Homo sapiens: one gene and its partners. The protein of the gene in region 1 interacts with the protein of each later gene in a biochemical or structural test. Each region holds a gene or a part of one and is shown in the gene's direction. Other genes may lie near its edges. The genes, in order: STK3, MOB4 and EIF4EBP1.

Region 1 (10,296 bases):
CATTTTGAGTTGTTACTTGTAGCTAATAGTTATGCTAGACTCCTGACATGACAAATAGGAAGAAGATACTGTCCTTATTCCCAAGAGGTTCACAGTGTGGTCTGAGAAACAAGTTAAATAATAGTTTAAGATTGTTATGATAAAGGAGGACAGTGGTTAAATTCAAATGCAACATGCTAGTTTCAAACTAACTATAAAACTAAGTTAGAAAAGAGAAACAGATCAAGAGAAAATGTTTTGTAAAGTTACCTCTTGAAGGAAAACATTTCCAAATTTTCCTGCAAATAAAAACCTACACAATATATTTGATTAGTGATTTCTCTCTTCCCCAAACTGTTCCTTATTATAGCAGAAAAGATTAATTAACATTTGTTAATTGATATTATTTTTCCAACAAATATAAAAATGAGGCTGGCCATGGCGGCTCATACCTATAATCCCAGCACTATGGGAGGCTAAGGTGGGAGGATTGCTTGAGACCAGGAGTTCGAGACCAGTCTGGGTAACATAGTGAGACCTCTGTTTCTACAAAACTCAAAAGTAAACTTAGCTGGGCATGGTGGTGGATGCCTATAGTCCCGGCTACTTGGGAGGCTGAGGCAGGAGGATTCCTTGAGCCTAGGAGTTCAAGGTTGTAGTGGGCTTTGATTGTGTCACTACACTCCAGCCTAAGAGAAATACAAAGTTGTAGTTTCAATGAATAGCTGCAACTAGTATGACAAGGAAAAATTTTTACCTTAATATGTTTCTATCTTAATATTTTAAACATGGTGGTGTACGTATTCAGTTACAAAGAACGTATGCTTTTTGTTATTCAAAGGCACTGGATCTCAAATTGCAGATTTCTTTCCCATTTCTCTTAGAGCACTCAACTGAGAATTGTAATCAGCTGTTTGCTAGTATAATTAAAGTGTATATTTAATCTCGATTCCAAATGGAGCTGTTGGAAGCAGAAACAGATTACCTTACTTTCCTTTTTTTTTTTTTTTTTTTTTTGAGACAGAGTCTTGCTCTGTCGCCCAGGCTGGAGTGCAGTGGCACTATCTCGGCTCACTGCAAGCTTCGCCTCCCGGGTTCACGCCATTCTCCTGCCTCAGCCTCCCGAGTAGCTGGGAGTACAGGTGCCCACCACCACGCCTGGCTAATTTTTTGTATTTTTAGTAGAAATGGGGTTTCACCTTGTTAGCCAGGATGGTCTCGATCTCCTGACCTCGTGATCTGCCCGCCTCGGCCTCCCAAGGTGCTGGGATTACAGGCGTGAGCCACCGCGCCTGGCCGATTACCTTACTTTCACAGTTAAGTGAAGCTGGGTGACCCTTACCTGTATCTCAAATGTTCCTGCAGCTTTCCTTTGTTCATGAATGCTGCTGCCTCTTATTTGCAGTTTGAATGGTGACTTCTATGCTTTCTTCCTGGAATCTTCAGGTTGGTTTTCAACAGACAAAGTAAAACAGAAGCTTGAAGCATTTTTTTTTCTTCTTCTAAGTAATTCAGGAGAAAAACAATTCCTTTATTGAGTAACACACAACACACCAGGCACAGTCCTGCCTCTGGGCCTTAGCACTTATTGTTCCCTTGGCCTCACATTCTAACATTCCCTTGGCCTCACATTCATGCTATCTGCATGGCTCTGGCCTCCACTTCCTTAGTCACTCTCTCGTTGAGGCCTTCCTTTGCCATCCTACCTGAATTTCATCCCTTCCCCTCCACTTTATTTTTATTTACTTTTTATTTTTTTGAGGCAGAGTTTTGCTCTGTTGTCCAGGCTGGGGTGCAGTGGCGCAATCTTGGCTCACTGCAACCTCTGCCTCCCAGGTTCACGCATTCTCCTGCCTTGACCTCCTGAGTAGCTGGGACTACAGGTGCCCACCACCACACCCAGCTAATTTTTGTATTTTTTTAGTAGAGACGGGGTTTCACCATGTTGGCCAAGCTGGTCTCAAACTGCTGACCTCAAGTGATCCGCCCACCTTGGCCTCCCAAAGTGCTGGGATTATAGGCATGAGCCACCACGTCCGGCCTCTTCCCCTCCACTTTATATTCCCTTTTTCCATTTCACTTTTCTTCCTTACCAGTTTTCAATCTCTAACATGACCCATTAGGTACTTTTTTATCTTATTATGTTTCCCCAACCAGAATGTAAATCCCCTGAAGGCAGGGATTTTTGTCTATTTGTCTCTTTTCTTTACTGATGAATATCCAGCACCTAGAACAGTGCCTGGCATACTTAAGTGCTCAATAAATATTTGTTGACTGATCTACAGTGGAATAAGTTCCAGCTTTGGAGTCTTAAAGGCCTGGATTAGAACACAGACATTCTGTTTATCCTAGGGTAACTCCTTTCACACTTTTGAACCTCAGTTTTCTCACCTATAAAATGGAAATAACTACTTCACAAGGTTGTTTTCAGGGTTTAATGAGAAAATGGAGGCCTAGTGTCTGATCCTATTGGAGTCGTATGATAATTATTAGTCTTCTCCCTTTTCAAGTTGAGGAAAGACCTCAGAAATTTATTTTCTGATAGTATTCCTCCTACTTCCACAATTCTTTATGGGTGTATCAGTCAAGATCATAAGCCCTTTAGAAGGTGCAATCAAATTAGTGTCAATTGAAAAGAGTTTAATTTACAAAGCATCAGTTGAGGATTGAGGTTAGGGGAACATAGGACATAGAGAAGAAACCCAGGGAATAGCAGAGCAGCCATGATACTCAGGCCCAAAGGGTCAAGGGGAAGGAGGAATAATTAGGTAGAGTAGTTTGCCTTGCAAAGAGCCATGATTCTCTGGAACACAGCTAGCCCTAGGTCACCTCACAGGAAGGGAACCAGGGCATCCAATAGTCTGACCTCACCCTCCTTTCTCCCTCAGATGATCTCTTGCTGGGTCTATCATCAGACCCAACCATAAGCCAAGGGGCTTCTGATGTCAGCCATACATATTAGCTCTCAGAGCAGAGAGCAGATGGAAAAGGATGGAGAATGAATCTGCAGGACCAAAAGGATGCTATCCAGCCCAGTGCCCTTACGATTTATCAGGCACTTGCTATGCAAGGTATAGAGAATAAAGATATGGCTCAACTTTCAATCAACTCATAGTTGGGTTGGGATGACAGCCTAATAAACAGAACTTCAATATAGTGTGACAAGTTTCATACAAAAGCCAACACAGGGTACTACGGACATATATACAAGACAGTATCTCTATCACAACTTAAATGTGACAGATAGTGGGTGATGATGCTGGTGGTTTGACTGGGAAAGGCTCCCTGGAGATTGCTGTTGGTAAAACAATTCAGGGATCATTTATTTTCTTTCTTTCTTTCTCTCTTTCCTTCCTTCCTCCCTCCCTCCCTCTCTCTCTCTTTCTTTCTTTCTTTTCTTTCTTTTGAAACAGGGTCTCACTCTATTGCTCAGGCTGGAGTGCAGTGGCTTGATCATGGCTCACTGAAGCCTAGTAGTTGGGACTACAGGTGCATGCCACCATGCCCAGCTATTTCTTTTGTTTTTTTTTTTTTTTTTTTTTTTTTTTTGTAGAGATGGGTTTCACCATGTTTCCCAGGCTGGTCTCGAACTCATGGGCTCAAGCTATCTGCCTGCCTTGGATTCCCAAAGTGTTGGGGTTGAAGGTGTGAGCCACCTCGCCCAGCCTTCCTCAAGAGGTTTCTCTGATGAAACACAAAAAGATGGGAGTGAGCCTGGCATAGTGGCTCATGCCTGTAATCACAGCACTTTGGGTGGCTGAGGTGGGTGGATTGCCCGAGGTCACGAGTTCAAGACCAGCTTGGCCAACATAGTGAAACCCTGTCTCTACTAAAAACACGAAAAATTAGCTGGGCGTGGTGGCGGGTGCCTGTAATCCCAGCTATTAGGGAGGCTGAGGCAGGATAATCTCTTGAACCAGGGAGGCAGAGGTTGCAGTGACCTGAGATCACGGCATTGCACTCAAGCCTGGGCAACAAGAGTGAAAGAAAAAAAAAAAAAGCTGGGAGTATGGCATGGAAGTGAAGATGAGAGTTGGGGGGGTTAGAGTGGAGTAATTTCAAAGATTCTTCTCAGCTTTAACATTTTAAATATTTAGGTTTTAAAATTGTTGTTGTCCTGTTATTTCTGAACAGTCAGACTGTGGATCTTTAATAAATGCAAACAAGTATAAAATTTTGTAGCCGGGCATTGTAGTCCTAGCTACTTGGGAGGCAGAGGTGGGAAGATTGCTTGAGCCCGGGAGGTTGAGGCTGCAGTGAGGCATGATCACACCACTGCACTCCAGCCTGGGGAACAGTGAGAACCTGTCTCAAAAAAACAAAACAAAAAAAACCCTTTTTCTTGTTCTCAGAATTAGAGTTTCAAAAATGAATGGTCTTAAAATAACTAAATTTAGGAAAGAATATAATGGTTTGAAAATAGTGTAAGTTTATTACATAGTGAAACTTAAAATAATGCAAAAAGAGGACTAAACTAAACTTGTATTAGCTGCTAATAGTCAAGTTTAATTTGGGCAAATATTCACATTATTCAACATTCTCTTCAAATTGGTTTCCTTTATTTAACATTCTCTTCATATTTATTGTTCTAACCTCCAAGAAAATTCTATGTAACTCTACATCTTGACAATTTCTTTCTTTCTTTTTCTTTTTTGAGACAAGGTCTGCTCTGTCACCCAGGCTGGAGTGCAGTGGCGCGATCTCGGATCACTGCAACCTCTGCCTCCCGGGTTCAAGTGATTCTCTTGCCTCAGCCTCCCAAGCAGCTGGGAGTACAGGCGCATCACCAGGCCCGGCTAACTTTTGTATTTTTAGTAGAGACGAGGTTTCACCATGTTGGCCAGGCTGGTCTTGAACTCCTGAGCTCAAGTGATCCGCCCGCCTTGGCCTCCCAAAGTATTGGGATTACAGGCGTGAGCCACCGCGCCCGGCCCATCTTGACAATTTCTGACAAAAACAAGTAAACTCATGTAGCAGCTGTATATTGTTATGTGAAAGGTATATATGGAATTTAAGGTTAAAAGCAACCTCTGCCTCCCGGGTTCAAGTGATTCTCTTGCCTCAGCCTCCCAAGCAGCTGGGAGTACAGGCGCATCACCAGGCCCGGCTAACTTTTGTATTTTTAGTAGAGACGAGGTTTCACCATGTTGGCCAGGCTGGTCTTGAACTCCTGAGCTCAAGTGATCCGCCCGCCTTGGCCTCCCAAAGTATTGGGATTACAGGCGTGAGCCACCGCGCCCGGCCCATCTTGACAATTTCTGACAAAAACAAGTAAACTCATGTAGCAGCTGTATATTGTTATGTGAAAGGTATATATGGAATTTAAGGTTAAAAGTATACCCACAATATGGATGCATGCAGTGGTCAGATTACAATGGGATGAGGGCTGCTGGAATCAGGTTGGGGGAGAGGACCAAAGAGGGGAGGAAACAAACTTTTCTTGAGTATTCTTCCTGGCAGCATAATTTGTGACAGGCTTGCCAGGTTACCCAATGGGACAGCTGCAAGGGCCCAGTGCAACTGAATTTGGTGTACCGAGAGATCTCACTGTACGAATTATTTTCTCGGTAATTAGATGTAATTATTGTGAAATGTAGCGAGGAGCTTGTCCACAATAAAAATCAAACAAGAATTTCCAGAAGTATCCCTAGTACTGTGGCCTACACATGTCAAATGGCTGGGGGAAAACATAACCGATAATTATAAACAGAACTAGAGAGGGAAGCGTGGGCAGTGAGAAAGTAATACTTCAAACGGATTCACACGATGTTAGGATGTGTCGTTGGGAAAGCCAAAGAAATGAGTCAAATTGGATCAGGGCAAACCGTAGTGAGGGCAGGCTAGGGGCGGAGCTCTGGGCCAGCTCAGAGGGACTTGCCCTTCCCCAGCCTAGAGCGGCTCCGGCCTCGCCCCCTAGCTCTAGCGGAACCTTCTCCTTTTCCCGGTCACGGGGCTCTGGGGCCAGCCAGGCCTTCGTCCCCGGCCCCGCCCACCCGCCGCGGCACCGGCCCCGCCCGCCAACCCAGGCCGCGGCAGGCTCCGCCCCCCGCCGCGGTGCCCGGCTCCGTCCACCTTCTCTGGGCCGCCGCCGCAGGCTGGCGGCCGGCGCGGCCGGGGGCGGGGCGGGGCGGCCGGGGGCGGGGCGGGGCGGCCGGGGGCGGGGCGGGGCGGCCGGGGGCGGGGCGGGGCGGCCGGGGGCGGGGCGGGGCGGCCGGGGGCGGGGCGGGGCGGCCGGGGGCGGGGCGGGGCGGCCGGGGGCGGGGCGGGGCGGGAGGAGCCGCGCTCCTAAGCGGGAGGGAGATCCGCCGCGGAGTTACGGGAAAGTTGGTCCGAGTTCCCAGAGTTTCCCTCTGTGGTGCCCTAGGCTCGGCCGGCCGGTGCCCCGGCTCCTTTCCTCCTTTCGGCCTTCGCCGTCCACCAGGTCCCTCTCTCTGTCCCCGGCCGCCATGGAGCAGCCGCCGGCGCCTAAGAGGTAACGAATCGGGGAGCGGGAAGAAGGAGGGAAGCGGCGCCGGCGGCCGCGGGGCGGGGGTGGCTAGGCCAGGCCCTGCTGCGAGCCTCTCCCCGCCCGCCGGGCCCCGAGCCGGGCGCGCTGAGGTCGGGAGGCGGGTCCGAGTGTCCCGCCGCGTCTGTCCACGGGCGAGGGGACCTGAGGGGAGCGGGAGCCGGAGCCTCCCCTGCGGCCGGCAGGCCTGGCGCGTGGAAAGTCGGGTGGGCAGCGCCGGGCTCCCTGCGGCCTGACCTCCCGGGGCGGGAGGAATTAAATATTAATAGCTACACAGTCTGTAAAACATTGTGGATGTGCTGCTCTGACAGGTGTTCTTCCCCCTTCCCCCTCAAGTTCAAAAGTATTTATGGATGCAAGACAGTGGGAAGTTTAAATTAGAACCCCCTCCCCCAATATAGTTTTGCGTGTAAAAATAGTGCTGCTTTGGTATGGTATTTACTGTTATTAATAGTTTATATTTAATCTTTGACACCTGTGTTGGAAATGTATGCATACAAGAGTGGGATGTGTTTGAGCTAATATTTGCAATGATCTTAGGAAGCCAAATCTAGGTTGTCCATTGACAGAAGTTCATAATATGTATTCCTCTCTCCCCAAGAATGAATTAACGAATTGTTTGATGTTGCTAAAATATTTAACCTCAGTCTTTCATTTTTAACTTATAAAATAAGGATAGTAATCTCTCAGATAGTGCTGTTGTGAAGATTAAAGAGTTCGTATGCTTTGACAGCTAGAGATCTTTAGATGAAAGGTGTGTTCAAGAACATGGGATAATTGAAAAGTTAGGAACTTTGGGAGCTATTGTGAATTGTGTGACTAGACATGTGAGCCTTGAAGCCTGGAAGCCATCTGTTCAGGTGAAAAAAAGGGGGGGTCGTGAAGGAGTTTCCAAAAGGGACCTGCTGTCAGAGCACTTGAGCAAGTCAATTGATAGATTCTTTTCTAGCATTTTGTAAGTTACCTGCATTCTACTCATTGGGCACCGTTTTAATACAATATAAGAGAATTGGGCACTTTTTTCTTTTCTGGAAGAACTGGAAGGAGCACCTCTGAGAAAACACAGTAGTCCAGTTTGAACAACTCTGAATTGAAGTGCAGCTCTCTATTGATTAGCTGTACTGTAAGTTATCAGAGTTTCATTATAGGTGTAAGAGAATCCTTGCCCTTGTGGAGACATTAGAGAACCTGGAGGAGTCAGGGGCAGGTGTAGGCAGCAATTCTGTGGTGATTTATACTTTTCAAAGTGGTGGTTGCACTTTTAACAGACTTATTTTTAGCTTATTCAGAGTCTTATTTTGAAGTAGTGAACAAAAATGCCGCAAAAGCATTTTTGAAGGCGAAAGATATGTGACAGCAATCCCTGATATTTGAATGTCTCAACATTTTTTATAGAATTTTCATATTCATAATATTTAATCCTCACAGCAACCCTATGGAGTAGATTGGATTATAGGCATTAATCCTAATTTATAGATGAGGATGTTGAGAGAGTTTGCCACATGGAAGGCTATGACAGGAATTACTGGCAGTTTTGCCCCTATTGATTATTATCTCCTAATAATGAAATATAGCTACTCGTTTTGAGGTCATCCTGTTTGCCAGGAAATTTAAGTATACATTATTTAAATCCTAAGAAATAGTAATCCTGGCTCTGCTACTTATTATGCTAGTTCTAAGTTTAATTTCTTCATCTGTGAAATGTATTGTGGGGATTAAATGAGGTGATATGTAAAGCACTTGGGACAGAGCGAGACCCTGTCTCAAAAAAACAAAAACAAAACAAAAACAACAAAAGATAATGGGGACTAATTTAATAAATATTTATGTATCACGACTGAGCTTAAGAAATAAAATTTGACAAATATATTTGAAGCCCCTATGTGTTCAACAGTGTTAGTTGTTAACTTATGTTTTCCTTATTATATGAGGCTCAAAGACGTTAAATAACTTGGTCAAGTGGAGAAAGTGCCAGAATTCTGCATCTGATTGGCTACAAAGGCTGTGCACCCTCTTGTTGTATACAGTGATGGCTCTTTTTGAAACTCTCTTTCTTATCATTCCATGATGTAGTGGTCCTCTTTTTCTGTAATCTCCTGGTCTCTGTTGCTTATTCTGCTCTTAATCCTTATAAAAGTGCCATTTTGCTTTTCTGCCTTGAATAACACTTCCTTAGTGCTGACTTTTACATGGCCTTATCGATGTCGTTGATGTTCAAGTATGACTAGAAGCTGCTGCTCAGTTGGCATTTTTTATTTTTTCAGGTAGGTCTTACTCTTTCATTATCCCATCTAGTTTGTCACTATAGCCTATCAAATTTTCTATTAAAAAGTTGGTGGATTAATTTTTTCTGTTTTCTTTCTCAAGAGTACTACCCCATAAAACCCATTCCATGGTTTTATGACCCTCACTTTTGAATTGCAGCAGTACCTTCTAGCTGGACGCTTTAGTCCAGTGGTTTTCAAAACTATTTTGTTTTGTTTTGAGATGGAGGGGTACAATCTCGGCTCACTGCAACCTCTGGCATCCTGATTCAAGCGATTCTCGTCCCTCAGCCTCCTGAGAGGCTGGGATTACAGGCGGGCGCCACCACGCCCAGCTCATTTTTGTGTTTTAGTAGAGACAACGTTTCGCCATGTTGGCCAGGCTGGTCTCCAACTCCAGACCTCAGATGATCCACCTGCCTCGGCCACCTAAAGTGCTGGGATTACAGGCATGAACCACCGTGCCTGGCCCCCGTTGTTCTTTATTTATGTTATAGGCTGTGGGTACTCCCAGCTTTACCTTTATTCACATTTTTCCTTTAGAAAAGTTTGTGTTACTTTTTGCCTGAAGAATAATCTATGTTTTATTCTTCCATCAAAGCCTACCTCATCAAGTATGTTTTCTGAGTACTTTCTAGCCTGAGATATTTCACTGAATTCCTAATGTGATATACATTTGATTATATACCATCTTTTTATTCTATTTTATTACAAAATTTTAGATATCCAGAAGATAATGAGGGCCTACTGCGATGGTGCACGCCTTGTAATCTCAGCACTTTGTGGGGCTGAGGTGGGAGGATTGCTTGAGCCCAGCAGTGGGAGGTTTCAGTGAGCTATGATTGTGCCACTGCACTCTATCCTGGATGACAAAGTGAGACCCTGTCTCAAAGAAACAAAAATAAAAATAAAAACAAAACAAAAAGAAAAAAGAACAGAGCCTAATTTAATAGATACTTAGGTATTACCATCCAGTTTAAGAAATATTAATAAAAATATTACCAATACATTTGAAGCCACCATGTGTATTTCTTCTCAATTACACTCCCTTCCCATCCCCCAAAAGGTAATCACTGACATGAATTGGATATTTGTCCTTCCCATACATGCCTTTATATTTTTAGTATGTTACATATATATGTGTGTGTGTATGTGTGTGTGTGTATGTATGTGTGTGTATATATATATGTATGTATGTACACATATCAACACATAATGTTAGGCATGGGTATTAGGCCTGGCCTTGTCACTGACTTTGAAATTTGCTTCTTTGGGCATCTTCTTCTCCTCTGGGAGTTGGAGATTCCAGTGTGTAGCCCAGTTCAAGAATCATGACTCAGAGACCTAGATGATTTTTAAGGCACCTCTCACCCTCATATTCATTGATTTGGTCTCCTTAACAAGGTTTGTGTTAAACATAGGCAATAGATGTGGTCACCCATGTCACCAACTTGAGGTACCAGAGTAGTTTTTAGATTCCTTAGATTTCGTTAACATACTTGTCACTGAGGTCTTCAGAAGTCCTTTTTTTTCTTTTTAACTTTTTTT
Region 2 (10,258 bases), on another chromosome or scaffold:
CAGCCATGAAAAGGAATGAAGTCTTAAAGGGAGAAACATACAGTACGGCATTTTGTATATATTAAAAACATTAAAGGCTAAAAAGTTTTGAATTTTAAAAAAAGGAATGAAGTACTGATTCATACTACACCATGGATAAGCCTTGAAAACATAATAGAAGCCAGACACAAAATGCCACTTATTATATTATTTCATTTTAATGAAATATCCAGAATAGGCAAATCCTGTGAAACAGAAATTAGGTTGGTTGTTGCTTAGGGCTGGGGGAAGGAGAGAATGGGAAGTGACTGCTAATTGGTTCAAGGTTTCTTTTTGGGATGCTGAAATGTTCTGAAATTTAGTGGTAATGGTTGCAGAATTTTGTGAATATACTAGAAACTACTGAATTTTTAAGAGTAAATTTTAGTTGTATCAATTATATCTTAAAAGTCAAAAAGTAGCCCATTAATTTTATATCAATTACCTGCTGAAATGGTATTATTTTGGATATAGTGGGTCAAACTACAATATTAAAATTAATTTCACCTCTTTCACGTTACCTTTTTATTTTTTATTTTTTAATTTTTATTTTTGAGACGGAGTCTCACACTCTTGCCCAGGCTGGAGTGCAGTGGCGCGATCTTGGCTCACTGCAAGCTCCGCCTCCCGGGTTCTTGCCATTCTCCTGCCTCAGCCTCCTGAGTAGCTGGGACTACAGGTGCCTGCCACTGCGCACAGCTAATTTTTTGTATTTTTAGTAGAGATGGGGTTTCATCGTGTTAGCCAGGATGGTCTTGATCTCCTGACCTTGTGATCCACCTGCCTCGGCCTCCCAAAATGCTGGAATTATAGGCGTGAGCCACTGCGCCCGGCCTCACGTTATCCCCTTTTTAATGTATCTCTTAGAAAGTTAATTAATTAATTTTTTGAGACGAAATCTTACCCTGTTATCCAGGCTGGAATGCAGTGGCCTGATCTTGGCTTACCTCCCTTGACCTCCTGTGCTCAAGCAATCCTCCTGCCTCAGCCTTCTTGGTAGCTGGGACTACAATCATAGTGCCACCATGTCTGGCTAATTTTTCAAATTTTTTGTAGAGATAGGGGCATTTCCCTGTGTTGCCTAGGCTGGTCTTGAACTCCTGGACTCAAGTGATCTTCCCACTTTGGCCTCCCAAAGTGCTGGAATTACAGGCGTGAGCCACCACATTGGGCCTAGAAAATTTAAAATTAAATATATGGCTTGCATTATACAGTTGACCCTTGAACAACTCCGGGATTGGGATCCCAACCCTCTGTGCAGCTGAAAATCTGAGTATCTAACTTTTGACTCCCCCAAAACTTAATTACTAATAGCCTACTGTTGACTGGAAGCCTTACCGATAACAGTCGATTAACACACATTTTGTATGTTCTGTGTATTATATAGTGTATTGCAATGAAGGAAGCTAGAGAAAATGTTATTCAGAAAATCATAAGGGGCTGGGCGTGATGGCTTATGCCTGTAAACCCAGCACTTTGGGAGGCTGAGATGGGAGGATCGCTTGAGGCCAGGAGTTCGAGACCAGCCTGGTCAACATAGTGAGACCTTCTTTCTTTCTTTTTTTTAAAGAAAATCGTAAGGAAGAGAAAATATATTTGCCATTCATTAAGTGGATCATTGTAAAGGTCTTCCTTGTTGTGTTCATGTCGTTGAGTAGGCTGAGGAGAAAGAGAAAGAAGTGGGGTTGGTCTTGCCGTTGCTGGGAAAATCTGAGCATAAGTGGATTTACGCAGTTCAAACCTGTGTTGTTCAAGGGTCTGCTGTATTTCTGTTGATGATTCTGGTTTAAAGGTTGTAAAACTGTCTCATGGTATACCCAAATGACAAATATGAGAAATACAGTTACTTGGGATATTTGCTTTTGACCAACTCATCTGTGGTCATATATCTGGAGAAAGGTAGTTTTTTTCAATAAATATTGCTCATGGTACTGTTTTTGGCAAGGAGTCCACTAATCAGAAATTCCTGTGGATATATTGTTAGAAAAATACTTCTTTTTTATTAGGTAATTTTTTAGTGCCACGGCACTAAGCCATATTTAGTAGTTACTAAACCGTATTTCTAAGTGACAGCTTCAGTCTCAAACTTGAAAAATAACCTAATTACTGGGTAGAGTCTTTGAGCTACAGTCATTGTTACTCCTTCCTCTAGTTGTTTTTTCCTTCTGGTTGACTCCCTGGTTTGTTTCTAGACTGCTTTCCCCTTGATGTTGCTCCCTGTCTGCCCTCAGGAGGACTGGATGAGGACAATTACTTTGCAGTTTTATTTTTCCTTTAATAAATTTACTGAGTTGCCATGAGACAGTGTTTCATTGTTTCTTTTTTTCATTGTTTCTGATAAATGGAACAGAATAAGTCAGATTTATTAAAATATAAGGAAACTTTGATATTTCATGTTAAAATTCAAAGGTGATCTGGGAGAAAGTTCTTTAGAGGGCTGCTAGATTGATAATAGAGTGCTAGGGACATAATAAGGAATATTGTTTAGGATATAAGAAGGCATCCCTGGAGATACCAGAGATAAATCAGGATTCTTCTTGTCTGTAATTGTTGTTTTCTTGTAGGTACGATGTTGGGAATAAAAATGGGAGACTGGTTTATGTATCATCTAGAATTGTGATATGGTTCAAGGGGATAATAAACCTTACTTATTAATATAACATTATATTTTACAAGCATTCGGAAATTGTAAGGAACTTTTTTCTTAGAACATGCTCATGTCTTTGGAATAAGGTATACCCATATAATGAATATATCTAACTTAAGAGAGAGCTCTTTGTTGATGCATTTCTATATTCTTTCTTTTGTAGTGTCCTGCTATAGACTATACTAGACACACACTTGATGGTGCTGCATGTCTTCTGAATAGCAATAAATATTTTCCCAGCAGGTAATCGAAACTTTTAAACATAGTGTTAAACATTTTAGAGTTAATTTATAAGATTGGTATTTTAGGGGGGAGGGGGGAGGGATAGTATTAGGAGCTATACCTAATGCTAAATGATGAGTTAATGGGTGCAGCACACCAACATGGCACATGTATACATATGTTACAAACCTGCACGTTGTGCACATGTACCCTAAAACTTAAAGTATAAATAATAATAAAATAAAAGATTAGTATTTTAAAAGTAAAATTAGGTTGCTCGTTAATGCATTTTTGTATTTTTTTTTTTAGCTGTTGTATTTTGGCTTGTTTATTCAAGTTTTGAAATTAGGACTGTGGTTAAACAGCAGAACTTGGCTGTCAAAGCTCAAGGCCAGTTCAGTCTAAGGCTAGTACCTGTTCATATATGTCATTCTGCAGAGCTCTCCCTCTCATGCTTTAGAGTTGGGATATGTATATACTTGCTCACTTGAATCTCTATGTTAGTTAGACTCGACCTCCCTTTATGTAGTATGCCTAAAGAGCAGACTTTCTGGCTGGGCGCAGTGGCTCACGGATGTAATCCCAGCACTTTGGGAGGCCGAGGCGTGCGGATCACCTGAGATTGGGAGTTCGAGACCAGCCTGAACAACATGTAGAAACTCCTTCTCTACTAAAAATACAAAATGATCTGGGCATGGTGACGAGTACCTGTAATCCCAGCCACTTGGGAGGCTGAGGCAGGAGAATCGCTTGAACCCAGGAGGCAGAGGTTGTGGTGAGCCGAGATCGCGCCATTGCACTCCGGCCTGGGCAACAAGAGCGAAACTGTCTCAAAAAAAAAAGAGCAGACTTTCTTATTTGTTTTTGAAGGATTCCTTATCCTTGCTCATTGATTTTTAAGATCTGAGAAGTCTGTACATGTAATATATTATCGGTGAAGTTTGTGACTGCCTTTTATTTTATTAAGGTATTTGTTACCAGGTGGATAGATTTGGAGATTTCCCCCACCAAATATGATTAGCTTCAAAGAGCTCATATAAAATATGTTAAGAAAAATACTGACTTTTGACCTTAATATTCTGTGTATACATATTTTAAAAAAGGATATCAGAAATATGCAGAAAATTTCAATTTTAAAAAAACAATTTTAATTTCTCTCTCTCTGTTTTTCTTTTTCTATATGGAGTCTTGCTCAACCAGGCTGGAGTGCAGTGGCGCAATCTCAGCTCACTGCAACCTCTGCCTCCTGGGTTCAAGCGTTTCTCCTGCCTCAGCCTCATGAGTAGCTGGGATTACAAGTGCCTGCCACCACGCCTGGCTGATTTTTGTATTTTCTAGTAGAGACGGGGTTTCACCATGTTGGCCAGGCTGGTTTCGAACTCCTGACCTCAGATGATCCACCTGCCTTGGCCTCCCAAAGTGCTGGGATTACAGGCGTGAGCCACCACACCTGGCCTTAATTTCTAAAAAAAAAAAAAAAAAAAAGAAAAGAAAAGGAAAGAATAACCTAGTTCTGTAAAATAAAACAATAATTCCTTTCAGGAGTTTTCAATCGCCTCTAGTGGACAATGTATTAATGTTGGAAATAGATGTTATAGTAAATTTTGAAATGTCAGGGATTTATTCTAACTGCATTAAACTTTTACAAAGTTTCAAAACTATAATGCTGAATTTAAGTTAGGCCCTGTGATTAGGTAGAAAGAACACTGGCCTAGAACTGAGGAGCAGGGGCTCCAGGCATTTACTCGCAGTGTGACCTTGGAGTAGTCGCTTATTTTCCCTAGGTGTCAGTTTCTACACTTGTAAGCGAGAAATTGGACTATATTGTTCCTAAGATTCTATCCAGTTCTAAGAATCTATGGTTTCTTTTCTACTTCTAGGGTTAGCATAAAGGAATCATCTGTAGCGAAACTAGGATCAGTATGCCGTAGGATTTACAGAATATTTTCACATGCTTATTTTCATCATCGGCAGATATTTGATGAATATGAAGTAAGTATATTTCACTGATTATCTTGATGCATTCTTATCAGTGTAACAGTAATATATATTGATGTTATTTCTAGTCTTTTAGTTTGGGATAGTGAATTAAAATAACATTTTTGTCTTCCTCTCTACAGAATGAAACATTTTTGTGTCATCGGTTTACTAAGTTTGTGATGAAATACAATTTGATGTCCAAGGATAACCTGATTGTACCAATTTTAGAAGAGGAAGTACAGAATTCAGTTTCTGGGGAAAGTGAAGCATGAAGGGAATCATAGGAAAAATGTACTGATCATATAATTAACATTATGTACTGTATATATCATTTTAGACACATCAATCATGTATCCATATTATAGCTTCTTTGTTTAGTATAGGTTTTTGTATGCTGGGTTTGCCTTTTAAAATGGGAAATACTTTTTAAGTTATTCATAAGCTGTATATTCACCAGTGTGGCACTCATGGTTTTTAAATAAGATTAGTATTATCTGTTTATAATGCCTGTTAATAAAAGAATTTACAGTTTGGTAAAATTGCTGCTAAACAATCATTGGATCACAATCCTCATCAGACAAACCCATCTGTAAAAAAAATGAGGGAGAGCTTGAGGTTTCACACAAGCCATTTACTAAAGAGGTAGAAATGTTTTCTATTGGTTTTACCTTGAGTTTAGATATCCTAAAAAATTCTGTAGTACGTAGTTTTGTCTTACCTGTTAACTTTCCCCAATTGAGATAAAAGTGTTTTAAAATTCTGTTTATAGTTTTTGATATGCATATATAATTATGTGTATATCTAAATACAAATGCAAATGAAGCATTAGTAATACTTAAATAATTTTACTGTGCTACATAAAGTATAACATACTTGGAAAGGATTTACCGTTCTGCAACAACGGACTGGTACATACAGGATGATCACAATGGTAAGGCACATAAATTATTTTCCCACTGGAAACCTGCCCTGTCCACCCCTTCTCATTTCCCTTAACCTTATCTTCAAACTACTTTAGCTGAGAAGCTTTTCACCAGACTGAGTTAGTGGTGGCTTATACCTATTTATATTTGTATTAATTGCTTACAGATTATACCTCATATTAGCAATTACATTACACTACAAGAAAATGTATTTGCATAGGCTCTTGCTTATCTTTGTTTTGCAAAATTGTTCTACTTAGAAAACAGTCCTTAAAATAGTTTGACTCTTCCTGTTAGTAATATATTAATCTTTCATTTAACCAGCTAGGCAGCATTAAATAGAATTGAAGAAATACCATAGTATTTATTTTACACCCCCTCTCCCACGAAGTTTATGTTTGGATTACATGCACGTGTGAGATTATTTGCAATAATTCATAGGTTCCAAGGGTGTTGATGAATAGTCATACATTTTTTTGGACTTTGTTATAATTCATTGTGGTAAGAATGATTGAAATGCAGATTTAACAATCTTATAATCTATTGAATGCCATTTTTGATAAAGCACTGGAGGTCTTATTGCCAAACTGATTGTAATGAGGCAGTAAGGGTGAAAACATTGTACATGTTGTGAAGAAAGTATTTAAATCCAACTTTTGAACAGATTTAACAAACATGAGGAACTTTTTTATTTAGAAGGATAATTTTGAAGATGAAAATGTATTCATCTTAATTGTTTTTTCAAATTTAAGGGAATAATTTATACCATCTTTTCAGACAAGAATGTACAGCAAAAATAAGGGGAACAGTAGTATACTGAGAGTGTGTGTATGTATAGTGTATGCCTTTCCAAGCTTGCCAGTCTTTTTGGCTTTGAACACTGCCCATCAGCTACAGTCATTACTGTTCCCCAACCCACAACTATCTTTTAAGAAGTCTTAGTTCACAGTGAAAGGAATGATGACTTTGAAATTATGGATTTATATTAATGGCACTATAAACCAATGGTAATGGTAATTTTTAAACTTGCTAAATATTGAGAAACTAAACTACTAAGTTAATAAATTATATATAGCAGTGTAGCTGTTCTCTCTAGATGGTGTCTCACAATGGATTTCTGTTGCTTGACTATTTTCTTAGTGAATATTTATACTAAGGTAGTGACTGAGATTTGGTGATCTGGCTGAGTATTTTGAAACACATTTTGAATAATATGGCTTAGTGTTAACGGGGACTTAAATATGATTTTTTTTTCTTACTCATTTCACCTTCCCTGTACTGTATGTTTGGAATTGATCATAAAACATCTCCAAAAGAAAATAATCAGTTTGTAGTCTTGCTTTTGTATTCATGTTGATAATCTTACTAATTGTGAAGTTGATTCACTACTATACTAGGTAAGACCTAAGTGAAACAGTTCCTGTTTTTCCTTAATACTGTTTTCAGAATTTTGAAAATGTACTTATATATACATAAATACTACTAAAAAATTAATGAGCCTGGCAAACCATTGATTTATAAAAGTAAGTGTTCTAAGAGGGGAACAAGACAGTTCTGTGTGATAAGGAAGTTAGGCTCCACTTTTTGTTTGAATTACCCTATGTATATCCGAAGGTAAACTTAGGCTTTTCTTTCCAAAAGATCGTATAGTCAATTCATTCTTTTTCTCCTATCACATCTGGGAAAGTAGCTAACTTTTAACTATTTATGTTCCCATAAGTAACCCTTCTTTTGTGTGTATACATTTCCTTTTCTCTGACTTGAGATGTCAAATTTGGATTTCTAGAACAGTTTCTCAGTTAAATTCTTGATGACTTAACAACTTTTACTATCAGAATACAATTAGAAATCCTTGGTCAGGCACAGGGGCTCACGCCTGTAATCCCAGCACTTTGGGAAGCCAAGGCAGACAGATCACCTGAGGTCAGGAGTTCGAGACCAGCCTGACCAACATGGAGAAACCCTGTCTCTACTAAAAATACAAAAATTAGCCGGGCGTGGTGCTACTCGTGAGGCTGAGGCAGGAGAATCGCTTGAACCCGGGAGGTGGAGGTTGCGGTGAGCTGAGATCGTGCCATTGCACTCCAGCCTGGGTAACGAGCAAAACTCCGTCTCAAAAACTCCGTCTCAAAAAAAAAAAATCCTTGATTACATTGTTAGTAAGGACTGTGTTACGATTATAAACACATTTATTGGTTGATGTCAAATTCACTGTAATAGTAGAACTAAGTTTTTTATGTGAGTACTTTGCCCTACTGTCTATATGATGACATCTTTTTTGAGCAGCTAAATTTTAAATTGTATATACTTTATTTTGTGAATCCTTGTTGAATGTGCTAAAGGTTTCTTTGTGTAGTTCTTCCATGCTATGCGAATATTTTAGTAAAAGTAGTTGATTTTTATTTCTTCAAGCATCTCATTGTTAACAGACAATACATATGGACCAGATGTAGTGGCTCACGTCTGTAATCCCAGCCCTTTGGAGGCCAAGGTGGGCAGATCATTTGAGGCCAGGAGTTCAAGACCAGCCTGGCCAACATGGTGAAACCCCATCTCTACTAAAAAAATACAAAAATTAGCCAGGTGTGGTGATGCATGCCTGTAATCCCATCTACATGGGAGGCTGAGGCAGAAGAATAGCTTGAACCTGGGAGGTGGAGGTTGCAGTGAGCCGAGATTGCACCACTGCACTCCAGCCTGGGCGACAGAGTAAGACTCCGTCTCAAAAAAAAAAAAAAACGTATTTGTGCAATATGCTTAGCAGTTTATTTGAGATGATAAGAACATTCAAATCTGTTTTCCTGAAAAAATATGCATTATTAGTATAGAGTACACTATGAAACCGGAAAGCTACCAAGTGAATCCTCTAGAGGGTTAGATTACCTATCTAATAATAGGTTCATTGTGGAGCCTTACTCTTCATTTGTATGACTTTTCTGCTACTTTTTTTTTTTTAGGCGGAGTCTTGTTCTGTCACTCAGGCTGGAGTATAGTGGCGCAGTCTCGGCTCATTGCAACCTCTGCCTCCTGGGTTCAAGTGATTCTCCTGCCTCAGGCTCCTGAGTAGCTGGGACTATAGGTGTGCATCACCACGCCCGGCTAATTTTTGTATTTTTAGTAGAGATGGGGTTTCATCATACTGGTCAGGCTGGTCTTGAACTCTGACCTCAAGTGATCAGCCTGGCTCGACCTCCCAAAGTAGTGGGATTACAGGGGTGAGCCACAGTACCCGGCCTACTTTTTTATAGTACACAAAGCTTCATATCAAGTGTGAGCACCTAATGTAATTAAGCAAAGAGAATACTAAATTTTCGTATTAACCTAAATTTGTAAACGATAAAAACATTGGCCGGGCGTGGTGGCTCATGCCTGTAATCCCAGCACTTTGGGAGGTCAAAGCCAGTGGATCACCTGAGGTCAGGAGTTCGAGACCAGCCTGACTAACAAAATGAAACCCTGTCTCTACTAAAAATACAAAAACTAGCTGGGTGTGGTGATACGCACTTATAAACCCAGCTACTTGGGAGGCTGAGGTACAAGAATCTCTTGAACCTGGGAGGTGGAGGTTGCAATGAGCTGAGATTGTGCCACCGCACTCCAGCCTGGATGAGAGAGCAAGACTCCATCTCAAAAAAAAAAAAAAAAGAAAAGAAAAAATTGACACCGTGAACTTAAATCCATGAAGTATGTCAATTAAGTGATGATTCTAGGATTAACTGTGACATCAATATTTAAAACTAGTGAACTGTTCATTTTTTCATAAGATCAAGATAATATGCTGATCTGGATTTGTCTCATAAACCTTGTTAAAAGCAGTTTTTAATTCCATAAGTAGTGTATTTATCTTTTTTTATTTTATTTTTTGAGATGGAGTCTCACTCCTTTGTCACTCAGGCTGGAGTGCAGTGGTGTGATCTCGGCTCACTGCAACTTCCTCCTCCCAAGTTCAAGCGATTCTCCTGCCTCAGCCTTCCAAGTAGTTGGGACTACAGGCCTGCACCACCGCACCATCACACCCGAGTAATTTTTGTATTTTTAGTAGAGACAAGAGCTTCACCATTTTGGCCAGGCTGATCTCGAACTCCTGACCTCAGGTGATCCACCGGCCTTGGCCTCCCAAAGTGTTGGGATTAGAGGCATGAGCCACTGCGCCCAGCCAAATAGCATATTTATTATTTTATTTTGGGTGGACCTCATGAGAGCCACCTATATCTTATATAACAATTAAAAATATTTACTTCTAGTTTATGTTACAGGTTATAGTATTATCTCTGCCTTTTTTTGTATCAGGAACATGCTTATACAGTATGCTTTATGTAAAATAATTATCTGTATCCCTACAAGTATTTGCTGATATTAAATATTTTTGATGACTGGGCATAGTGGCTCACATCTGTAATCTCAGCATTTTGGGAGGCTAAGGCCAGAGGATTGCTTAAGGCTAGGAGTTTGAGCCAGCCTTTGCAAT
Region 3 (9,590 bases), about 61 Mb from region 1:
TCACCATGCTGGCCAGGCTGGTGAAAGCAAGATCTTCAAGAAGTATTTGTATTCCCATGTTCATAGCAGCATGATTCACAATAACTGAGAAGTGGAAGCAACCCAGGTGTCCATCAGTCAGAGGAAAGGATAAGCAAAATGCGCGCACACTCTCAATGGGATATTATTCAGCCTTCAGCAGGAAGGAAATCCTATCACATGCTACAGTGTGGAGGGACCTTGAGGACATTATGCTAAGTGAAATAAGCCGGTCATGAAAAAGCAAATCCTGTATGATTTCACTATATAAGATACCTAGAGTAGTCAAATTCAGAGAGACAGAAAGTAGAACCCTGCTTGCCAGGGCCTAGAGGGAGTGGGGAAGGGGAGTTGTTGTAGAGTTTCAGTTTCACATGATGAAAACGTTTTGGAGATGATTGGCGGTGATGGTAGCACAACACCCTACCGAAAATGTTTAAGATGGTCAATGTTATGTGTATTTCACCACAATTTTTAAAAAGTCACCAGGGGCTGATGACCTTTAAAGAGGCTCTCCAGATGGTTGCTGGCCCCTGGGCGCTTCTTTGAGACTGTTGAATCTTTAACTCTTAGGTTTCACGCTATGATAAACAAACCAACAACAACAAAAAAAGTGTGGCTCATGTCTGTAACCCCAGCACTTCGGGAGGCTGAGGCCAGTGGATCACTTGAGGTCAGGAGTTCAAGACCAGCTTGGCCAACATGGTGAAACCCTGTCTCTACCAAAAAATACAAAAATTAGCCGGGCGTGATAGCACATGCCTGTTGTCCCAGCTACTGGGGAGGCTGAGGCGGGAGGATTGCTAGAACCCAGGAGGCAGAGATTGCAGTGAGCCAAGATTGTGCCACTGCATTCCAGCCTGGGTGACAGAGCAAGACTCCATCTCAAAACAAACAAACAAAAAGCAAAGTTGGGGGGAAACAAGAAGGGGGGCACTCTTGCCGAGTCTCAAAGATTAAGAAACAACAGAAAAAAAGTGGTCCCATCTGGAGCCAGGATGTCCAGCCACTTGTCCACTGAGTCCCCACCCCGCTGCCTGGACCCTGGGGTCTCTGGGCTTCCCTCCCCTCTGGGGAGGAGAGATTGTACAACCCCAAGCCTTGCAGAGTGGAGCAGTGCCACATCTGGCCTCTAGAACCAAAACAAATCTGGGTCACTTTTTAAAAAAAAGAGTTAGAAATTGGTCTTCCCTTACCTCCCCTCACTGTCACCCCAGCCCTGCAAAGAGAGGGCACCACTGCTCTCCATTTGTAATCTGGGCTCATAGGCACTCAGACCTAGAAGGTGCATGGGTCTTTATTTTACAGATGAGGAGATGGAGGCCCAAAACAGGGGGTGCAAGGAGCAAGGTGCATAGGGTCACACAGCTGACTGGGAACGGAGCCCAAATGCACCCTGGTTCTTTACACCCCTCCTCCTAAGAAACAGCTGTGCGCTGGAGTCCCATAGGCAATGAGCAGGGCTGTCAGCTTCAGTATCACTGCCTCTCCTGCAAGGGGACAGGAGAGTAAGACCAGTGACTGCCTGGAGGGGCCACAGCCAGACTAGAGGAACACAGCCAGCAGGTGAAGTTTATCTTTAGGTATCTCTCTGCATTCCTCTGCCCTTCAGCATCTCACGTCATCCTCAGCACAGAGCCCCGTTTCAGGAACTCACACTCAGACTCCGAGATGGAAATTGGTTCCTTTCCAGGGGTTTACAGAGTCCAGTGCTGAGCATCAAGAAATGAATCTCAATATGTACAACTATTATGGATCCATAAAAATTAAAAATCAAAAAAGTAAAATAAAGTGTAAGAAATGAATCTCAGCTGTTGGAATGCTACTCATCATAGCCCCTAAGTGAAGGAGAGATTTCAAGGTTATTGCTAAGGAAGGGCATTCCTGAAGTCCTTAAATCATGATTCCCAAACTTGGGTTATTCATATTTTATCTGCACAATTATTACCATACCTTGCATTCCACTTGTACAGATATTTAATATTTCTTTATATCACCTTAGCTTTTGAATTTAATTTACATTATTTTATTATAGAATCTATAATATATTATTATATTATTGTATATTAAAAGGAATTGCTATCACTACTATATATGGAACACCGGATTCACTTGCCATAAATAGAAGGTAGCTATAAAAAGATACAAAGGGGCCGGGCACGGTGGCTCACACCTGTAATCCCAGCACTTTGGGAGGCCGAGGCAGGCAGATCACGAGGTCAAGAGTTTGAGACCAGCCTGGCCAACATGGTGAAATCCCGTCTCTACTAAAGATACAAAAAATTAGCTGGGCATGGTGGCACGCACCTATAATCCCAGCTACTTGGGATGGTGGGGTAGAATTCCAAGGTCAGTGACACACTGGCAGGACACACTGGGGGCCTCACAAAGGAGGGGCTCAGCAGGAGAGCCCACCCTTCACTCCTGCCTCTGGCTCTTCTCCGCAAAGCCCAGGCATTTCTCTCTTTTTTTTTTGGAACTGTCTTTTTGAGATAGGGTCTCACTGCAGCCTGGACCTCCTGGGCTCAAGCAATCCTCCCGTCTCAGCTTCCCGAGTAGCTGGGACTACAGGCACGTACCCATCATGCCCGACTCATTTTAACATTTTTGTAGAGATGAGGTCTCTCTAAGTTGTCCAGGCTAGTCTCAAGCTCCTGGGCTCAAGCAGTCCTCCCACGGTGGCCTCCCAAAGTGCTGAGATTACAGGTGTGAGCTACCACACCTGGCAAAAGTTCTTATTTTTACTACTCTGGTTGAATCACAAGTATTTTCTGTTTGGTCATTTGTAAAATGCAGCTATTCTGGGTATCCCACAGGAGTGCTGTAAGGACAGGACTGAATAATGACTAGAAATGCATTTTTTCCACCGTGGTATGTGATTGTCATGGGTAATTAACACTAAGCCCAGGTGGGTGAGTGAGCTGAGGGGCTATAGGGACAGAGCACAGTGTGCACAGAGCTCTGGGAAGACACAGGTGCAGTTGGTGGCCTGCAGACCCCTTCCATTGGATCATTCCATGTGAAGGGGAGTTGGGGCCGTTTGGAGGTAGCAGAGTTCTGGGTGGCAGCCAGGCCCCCAAATAAGCCTCACTACTCTGGCTTTTTTTTTTTTTTTTTTATGAAAAGGAGTCTCGCTCTGTTACCCAGGCTGGTGTACAGTGGTGCAATCGGCTCACTGCAACCTCTGCCTCCCAGGTTCAAGTGATTCTCCTGCCCCAGCCTCCTGAGTAGCTGGGATTACAGGCTACCACCACCACGCTGGCTAATTTTTGTATTTTTAGTAGAGACGGGGTTTCACCATGTTAGCCAGGCTGGTCTCGAACTCCTGACCTCAGGTGATCCACCCATGTTGGTCTCCCAAAGTGCTGGGATTATGGGCATGAGCCACCGCACCCAGCCTCCTCTGGGTTTTTCAGGAGAATCTGCTGCCTCTACTGCAGCCACGCCTTTAAAAAGTGGAAAAACCGGCAGGCAAGAGGCTGCAGATGGCTTGACCAACCTCCCTGTTCCCTTCTAGGTACCAGGATCATCTATGACCGGAAATTCCTGATGGAGTGTCGGAACTCACCTGTGACCAAAACACCCCCAAGGGATCTGCCCACCATTCCGGGGGTCACCAGCCCTTCCAGTGATGAGCCCCCCATGGAAGCCAGCCAGAGCCACCTGCGCAATAGCCCAGAAGATAAGCGGGCGGGCGGTGAGTGTCGGGGCTTGGCCAGGCTCTACCTTGGGAAAGGGAATGTATGAGGCTCCTGGAGTCCATCCACTGGGGGCAATTCCAGGGAGGAGGAACAACAGGGACTCTGCCCTACCCTCTAAGGAGCAGCTCAGAGCCCAGAGGGTGAGAGTAGGGGTGGGGAGGTTGAACTCTTCATTGGTAGCAACTTTCCCCCTGAAAGGGGCCCAGGCACCTCAGGAAAGGTGATCTGGCACCTTTGGGTCATGTAATTAGCGGGGAGTTTGTTTGAAATGGCAGCGGCTGCACACAGCAACTTTCGTAAGCATGTGCCTCTGTATAATTGTCTCTGAAGCATTTCCACTTGGAACACACCCATGATGTTTGTGGTGCAAGAGACAAGTTATCAAAGACACAGTGTACTTGTCCTTTGGGAAATTATATGTCTACAAGATAAGAAATACATCCGGGATGCCTCCTGTTGGGCTGTTGGTCCCCTAGTGGATCTTCATGAAGGCAGGTAGAAACAATGCAGCCAGTTGTCTCTGCCGATTTGACATTTGGTAGCTGGGTCCTTCCTGCTGTCCCCACCTCCCGAGTAATTAGAGCAGCCACTGTGGTAGTGGTGTAAGTGAATGCACTCTTTGTGGCATCCTGACTGGCTTGGCAGAGTGTTGGAGTTCTCTGCTGCAAGATGATGCAGCATAAGCACTTCCGGGCAACTATAATCAGATTGGAACCCGCCGACCCTTCACCCGGAAGGCCGTACCCCAGGCCCAGACAGGAAGCAGCAGGGACCTCAGCTTGGCTGGCTCTGCTAACAGCAGCAGAATTAATCTCCCCAGGGCCTGCAGGACATGATTCATAATTACCTTGGGAACCTCACAGTACAAGACAGACAATAGTTGCCTGTGTCTTAGTCTGTTTTTTTATGGCTGTAACTGAATACCTGAGACTGGGTAATTTATGAAGAAAAATGGTTTATTTCTTACAGTTCTAGAGGCTGGGAAGGCCAAGGGCATGGTGCCCGCATCTGCTGGGCTTCTGGTGAGGGCCTCCTGCTGCATCATAACATGGCGGAAGGCATCACAGGGCAAGAGGGGCACATGAGAGAGAACCAAGCTGCCTTTTTATAACACTCTTGTGATAACTAGCCCACTCCTGTGGTAACCCATTAATCCAGGAATGGGCTAATCCATTCATGAGGACAGAGCCTTCATGACCCAATTACCTCTTAACGGCCCCAACTCTTAATACTGTTACATTGGGGATTAAGTTTCTGTATGAATTTCAAACCATAGCATTCCAGCCCTGGACCCCCCAAACTCATGTCCTTCTCATATACACATATATTAATTTGGTCCCCATATCCCCAAAGACTTAACACGTTGCAGTCCTAGCTCAAAAGTTCAAAGTCCAGAATTTCATCTGAATCAGACAAGACTCACAGCATGATTCATCTCAAGCTTAATTTCCTTCCAGCTGTGAGCCTGTGAAACTAAACAAGTTATCTACTTTCAAAAAATAGGGGCTGTCCCTGGCCCCTAAAAACATCAGCTGGTGGCCAGGCACAGTGGCTCATGCCTGAAATCCCAGCACTCTGGGAGGCTGAGGCAGGATGAATACTTGAGGCCAGAAGTTCAATACCAGCCTGGGCAACAATGCAAGACCCCATCTCTACATAAAATTTTAAAATTAGCCAGGCATGGTGGTGCATGCCTGTAATCCCAACTACTTGGGAGGCTGAGGCCAGAGGATCATTTGAGCCCAGGAGGTCAAGGCTGCAGTGAGCTATGATTGCGTAACTGCACGCCAGCCTGGCCAAGAGAGTGAGACCCTGTCTCTAAAGAAAAAAGCAAAAACAACAAGAGTCAGACGAAATGATATAGTCTGGATATTTGTCCCTGCCCAAATCTCATGTTAAATTGTAATCCCCAGTGTTGGAGGTAGGGCCTGGTGGGAGGTGTTTGGGTCGTGGGGACAGATCCCTCACAGCTTGGTGCTGTCCTCATGATAGTGAATGAGTTCTCTCGAGATCTGGTTGTTGTAAAGTGTGGGAGCGCCACTCCACCCTCTCTCTTGCTCCTGCTTCCTCCATGTGACATGCCTGCTCCCGCTTTGCTTTCCACCATGACGAAAAGCCCCCTGAGGCCTCCCCAGAAGCCAAGCTGAGGCCGGCGTCATGCTTGTACAGCCTGCAGAACCGCGAGCCAGTTAAACCTCTTTTCTTGGCTGGGCACGGTGGCTCGCACCTGTAATCCCAGCACTTTGGGAGGCTGAGGAGGGTGGATCATCTGAGATCAGGAGTTCGAGACCAGCCTGGCCAACATGGCAAAACCCCGGGTCTACTAAAAATACAAAAATTAGCTGGGTGTGGTGGTGGGTGCCTATAATCCCAGCTACTCTTTTGGGAGGCTTAGGTAGGAGAATCGCTTGAACCCAGGAGGCGGAGGTTGCAGTGAGCCGAAATTGGGCCACTGCACTCCAGCCTCGGAGACAGAGTGAGACTCCATCTCAAAAAAAAAAAACAAAAAAACAAAAAAAAACTTATTTTCTTTATAAATTACCCAACCTCAGGTATTTCTTTATAGCAATGAAAGAATGGCCTCATATACCAAGCATTCACCCATTGTTGACCTGGCCCTCTGTCCCCTCTCTCCCCAGGTGAAGAGTCACAGTTTGAGATGGACATTTAAAGCACCAGCCATCGTGTGGAGCACTACCAAGGGGCCCCTCAGGGCCTTCCTGGGAGGAGTCCCACCAGCCAGGCCTTATGAAAGTGATCATACTGGGCAGGCGTTGGCGTGGGGTCGGACACCCCAGCCCTTTCTCCCTCACTCAGGGCACCTGCCCCCTCCTCTTCGTGAACACCAGCAGATACCTCCTTGTGCCTCCACTGATGCAGGAGCTGCCACCCCAAGGGGAGTGACCCCTGCCAGCACACCCTGCAGCCAAGGGCCAGGAAGTGGACAAGAACGAACCCTTCCTTCCGAATGATCAGCAGTTCCAGCCCCTCGCTGCTGGGGGCGCAACCACCCCTTCCTTAGGTTGATGTGCTTGGGAAAGCTCCCTCCCCCTCCTTCCCCAAGAGAGGAAATAAAAGCCACCTTCGCCCTAGGGCCAAGAGTTGGGCCCCGTCTGAGCTTTTTTCAACTCTGTTTGGTAACTAACACCAGCTGCTATCTGTACAGTGCTGCTGCTTTTTTTTTTTTTTTTTTTTTGAGACGGAGTTTCACTCTTGTGGCCCAGGCTGGAGTGCAATGGCGCAATCTCAGCTGATTGCAACCTCCACCTCCTGGGTTCAAGCAATTCTCCTGCCTCAGCCTCCCGAGTAGCTGGGATTACAGGTGCCCGCCACCATGCCCAGCTAGTATTTTTTTGTATTTTTGTAGAGACAGGGTTTCACCATGTTGGCCAGGCTGGTCTCGAACTCTTGACCTCAGGTGATCCACCCGCCTTGGCCTCCCAAAGTGCTGGGATTACAGGTGTAAGCCACCGTGCCCAGCCTTGTACAGTGCTTCTAAAGCGTGGGCCTGTCCTTATTTGATTCTGACTCTGATCCTGTGGGTAAGTAGAACAACTGTTATCCTCACTTTACAGCTGAGAAGACTGGCACAAGAACAGGTAAAATCGTGCAGCTGCTGAATGGCACATGGGACTGGATTTGAGTCCTGCTACTCTTTTTTTTTTTTTTTTCCGAGACGAAGTCTTGCTCTGTCTCCCAGGCTGGAGTGCAGTGGCACAGTCCTAGCTCACTGCAGCCTCAAACTCCTAGGTTCAAGCAATCCTCCTGCTTCAGCCTCCTGAGTAGCTGGGACTACAAGTTCACACCACCACCTGGCTAAGTTTTTTGTGAGTAGAGATAAGGTCTTGCTATGTTGCCCAGGCTGGTCTTGAACTCCTGGTCTCAAGTGATCCTCCCACCTCAGCGTTCCAAATTGTTGGGATGACAGATGTGAGCCACCACGCCCAGCCCATACCCTGGTATTCTTGATCTCTTGTTTTTCAGTAGCAAGGCAGCTGCCTCGCTTCTGTGCTTTCTCCCCCTTCTCTCAACCCCAAGCCTGTCGAGTTTGGCACCTTCCCGTCAGGGCCCATTCCATGCAAGAGTCAAAGGGAAGAGCCCCTGCCTTGGCCAGTGTGGCATCTGATCTGCGGGCACTCGACCTTTGCCAATTGATCGCTTTGTGTGAGCTGTCATGTGTGGCACAAACACAGACAAGCTCTCTGCCTTGAAAATTTCATTGAAATGTAAGATTTGCCCGAAAGTAAAGGTAGCATAGGCTGGGCACAGTGGTTCAAGCCTGTAATCCCAGGATTTTGGGAGGCTGAGGTGGGAGGATTGATTGAGGCCAGGAGTGGGAGACCAGTCTGGGCAACGCAGTAAGACCCCGTCTCTACAGAAAATTTTTTAAGTAGCCAGACATGGTGGTGCACACCTGTGGTCCTAGCCACTCAGGAGGCTGAGGTGGGAGGAACACTTGAGCCCAGGAGTTCAAAGCTGTGGTGAGCCACGATTGTGCCACTGCACTCCAGTGACAGAGTAGAGGCTTCATGGAGGTGATGCTACAGCTGGACCCTGGGAATGAGTGGGTTGGGGGAGGCAGGGGCCCAGTGTTGCCAAGCTCAGATGGTCTTGGGGAGCTGGGGTGTTCAGGGAAGAGACATAGTAGCCTGCTTTGGTCAGAGCAGGCAGTTTGTATGGGTGAGAATGACTTTAACAAATGGCCAAAGAAGGGTGAGGTTTCTGAAGGTCTTGAATGGTAACTAGGCAGAGATCTTTGCTGAGAAGCAATAGGAATTTCTTATTACAGGGTATGCTGGTGGGTGGATGGCCTATGAACAAGAGGCAGTGGCTGGCATTTACTTAACAAGCTCCGAGCACATAGCACTTGTCCACCTGCTGTTTGGAGAGCAGCAGACCTTCAGTGGCCAAGTTGCTTGCTTGGCCTTTTCTATAGCTGGGTTGCAGCCCCCTTCCCTCACAAGGACTGAAAGCAGCTGAGTCCAGGTGCATGGTGATGTGTGGCAGGCCTGGCCTTTGGCACGTTGCCTCCAAGCACGCAGCAAAGTCTGTCCGTATGGATGGAAAAGAGAGGCTAGGGATGGGCCACCACTGGTGCAAAGAATAATGAAAGCTTCAAGTAGGCTCAAAGGAGAGATTGGGTCAGCCTTCCCAATCCCGTAACTTTCCAATAAAAGCATCATGCTCCAAGGCCAGGCACAGTGGTTCCTGCCTGTAATCCCAAAGCTTTGGGAGGTCAAGGTGGGAGGATCACTTGAGGCCAGGAGTTCGAGACCAGCCTGGGCAACATAGTGAGACCCCATCTCTACTACCAAAAAAATTTACAAATTAGCTAGACATGGTGGTGCACACCTGTAGTCCCAGCTGCTTGGGAAGCTGGGGAGGGAGGATCACTTTAGCTCAGGAGATCGAGGCTGCAGTGAGTTATGATTGCACTACTGCACTGCAGCCTGAGCAACAGAACAAGACCTTGTCTCTTAAAAAAAAAAAAACGCGGCCAGACGAGGTGGCTCATGCCTGTAATCCCAGCACTTTGGGAAGCCAAGGTGGGCAGATCACTTGAGGTCAAGAGTCTGAAACCAGCCTGCCCAACATGGCAAAACCCCGTCTGTACTAAAAATACAAAACTTAGCCAGGCGTGGTGGTGCACGCATGTAATCCCAACTACTCGGGAGGCTGAGGCACGAGAATCGCTTGAACCTGGGAGGCGGAGGTTGCAGTGAGCCGAGATCGCACCACTGCACTCCAGCCTGGGTGACAGAGTGAGACACTGACTCACAGAAAAAAAAAAAAATCTCACTCTGACATCCCACCAGAGGTCTTGCCAGCCTACAGGTCCATTTCCCTTCTTGGTCTTACGTCTCAGGGTCT

Evidence for each region.
Region 2: of the proteins of STK3 (region 1) and MOB4, one has a biochemical effect on the other in vitro, tested with the Homo sapiens proteins (one study listed by BioGRID).
Region 3: of the proteins of STK3 (region 1) and EIF4EBP1, one has a biochemical effect on the other in vitro, tested with the Homo sapiens proteins (one study listed by BioGRID).

What each region holds. Positions count from the first base shown.
Region 1 is NC_000008.11:98,821,670-98,831,965, reverse strand, and holds the start of STK3 (serine/threonine-protein kinase 3), read left to right. Parts: upstream 1-6,277; 5' UTR 6,278-6,425; coding exon 6,426-6,451; intron 6,452-10,296. UniProt on the Homo sapiens protein: Stress-activated, pro-apoptotic kinase which, following caspase-cleavage, enters the nucleus and induces chromatin condensation followed by internucleosomal DNA fragmentation.
Region 2 is NC_000002.12:197,545,508-197,555,765, forward strand, and holds the end of MOB4 (MOB-like protein phocein), read left to right. Parts: intron 1-2,828; coding exon 2,829-2,908; intron 2,909-4,767; coding exon 4,768-4,879; intron 4,880-5,007; coding exon 5,008-5,139; 3' UTR 5,140-8,192; downstream 8,193-10,258. Other genes in the region: HSPE1-MOB4 protein, read left to right, coding at 2,829-2,908, 4,768-4,879, 5,008-5,139.
Region 3 is NC_000008.11:38,053,546-38,063,135, forward strand, and holds the end of EIF4EBP1 (eukaryotic translation initiation factor 4E-binding protein 1), read left to right. Parts: intron 1-3,535; coding exon 3,536-3,715; intron 3,716-6,358; coding exon 6,359-6,390; 3' UTR 6,391-6,820; downstream 6,821-9,590. UniProt on the Homo sapiens protein: Repressor of translation initiation that regulates EIF4E activity by preventing its assembly into the eIF4F complex: hypophosphorylated form competes with EIF4G1/EIF4G3 and strongly binds to EIF4E, leading to repress translation.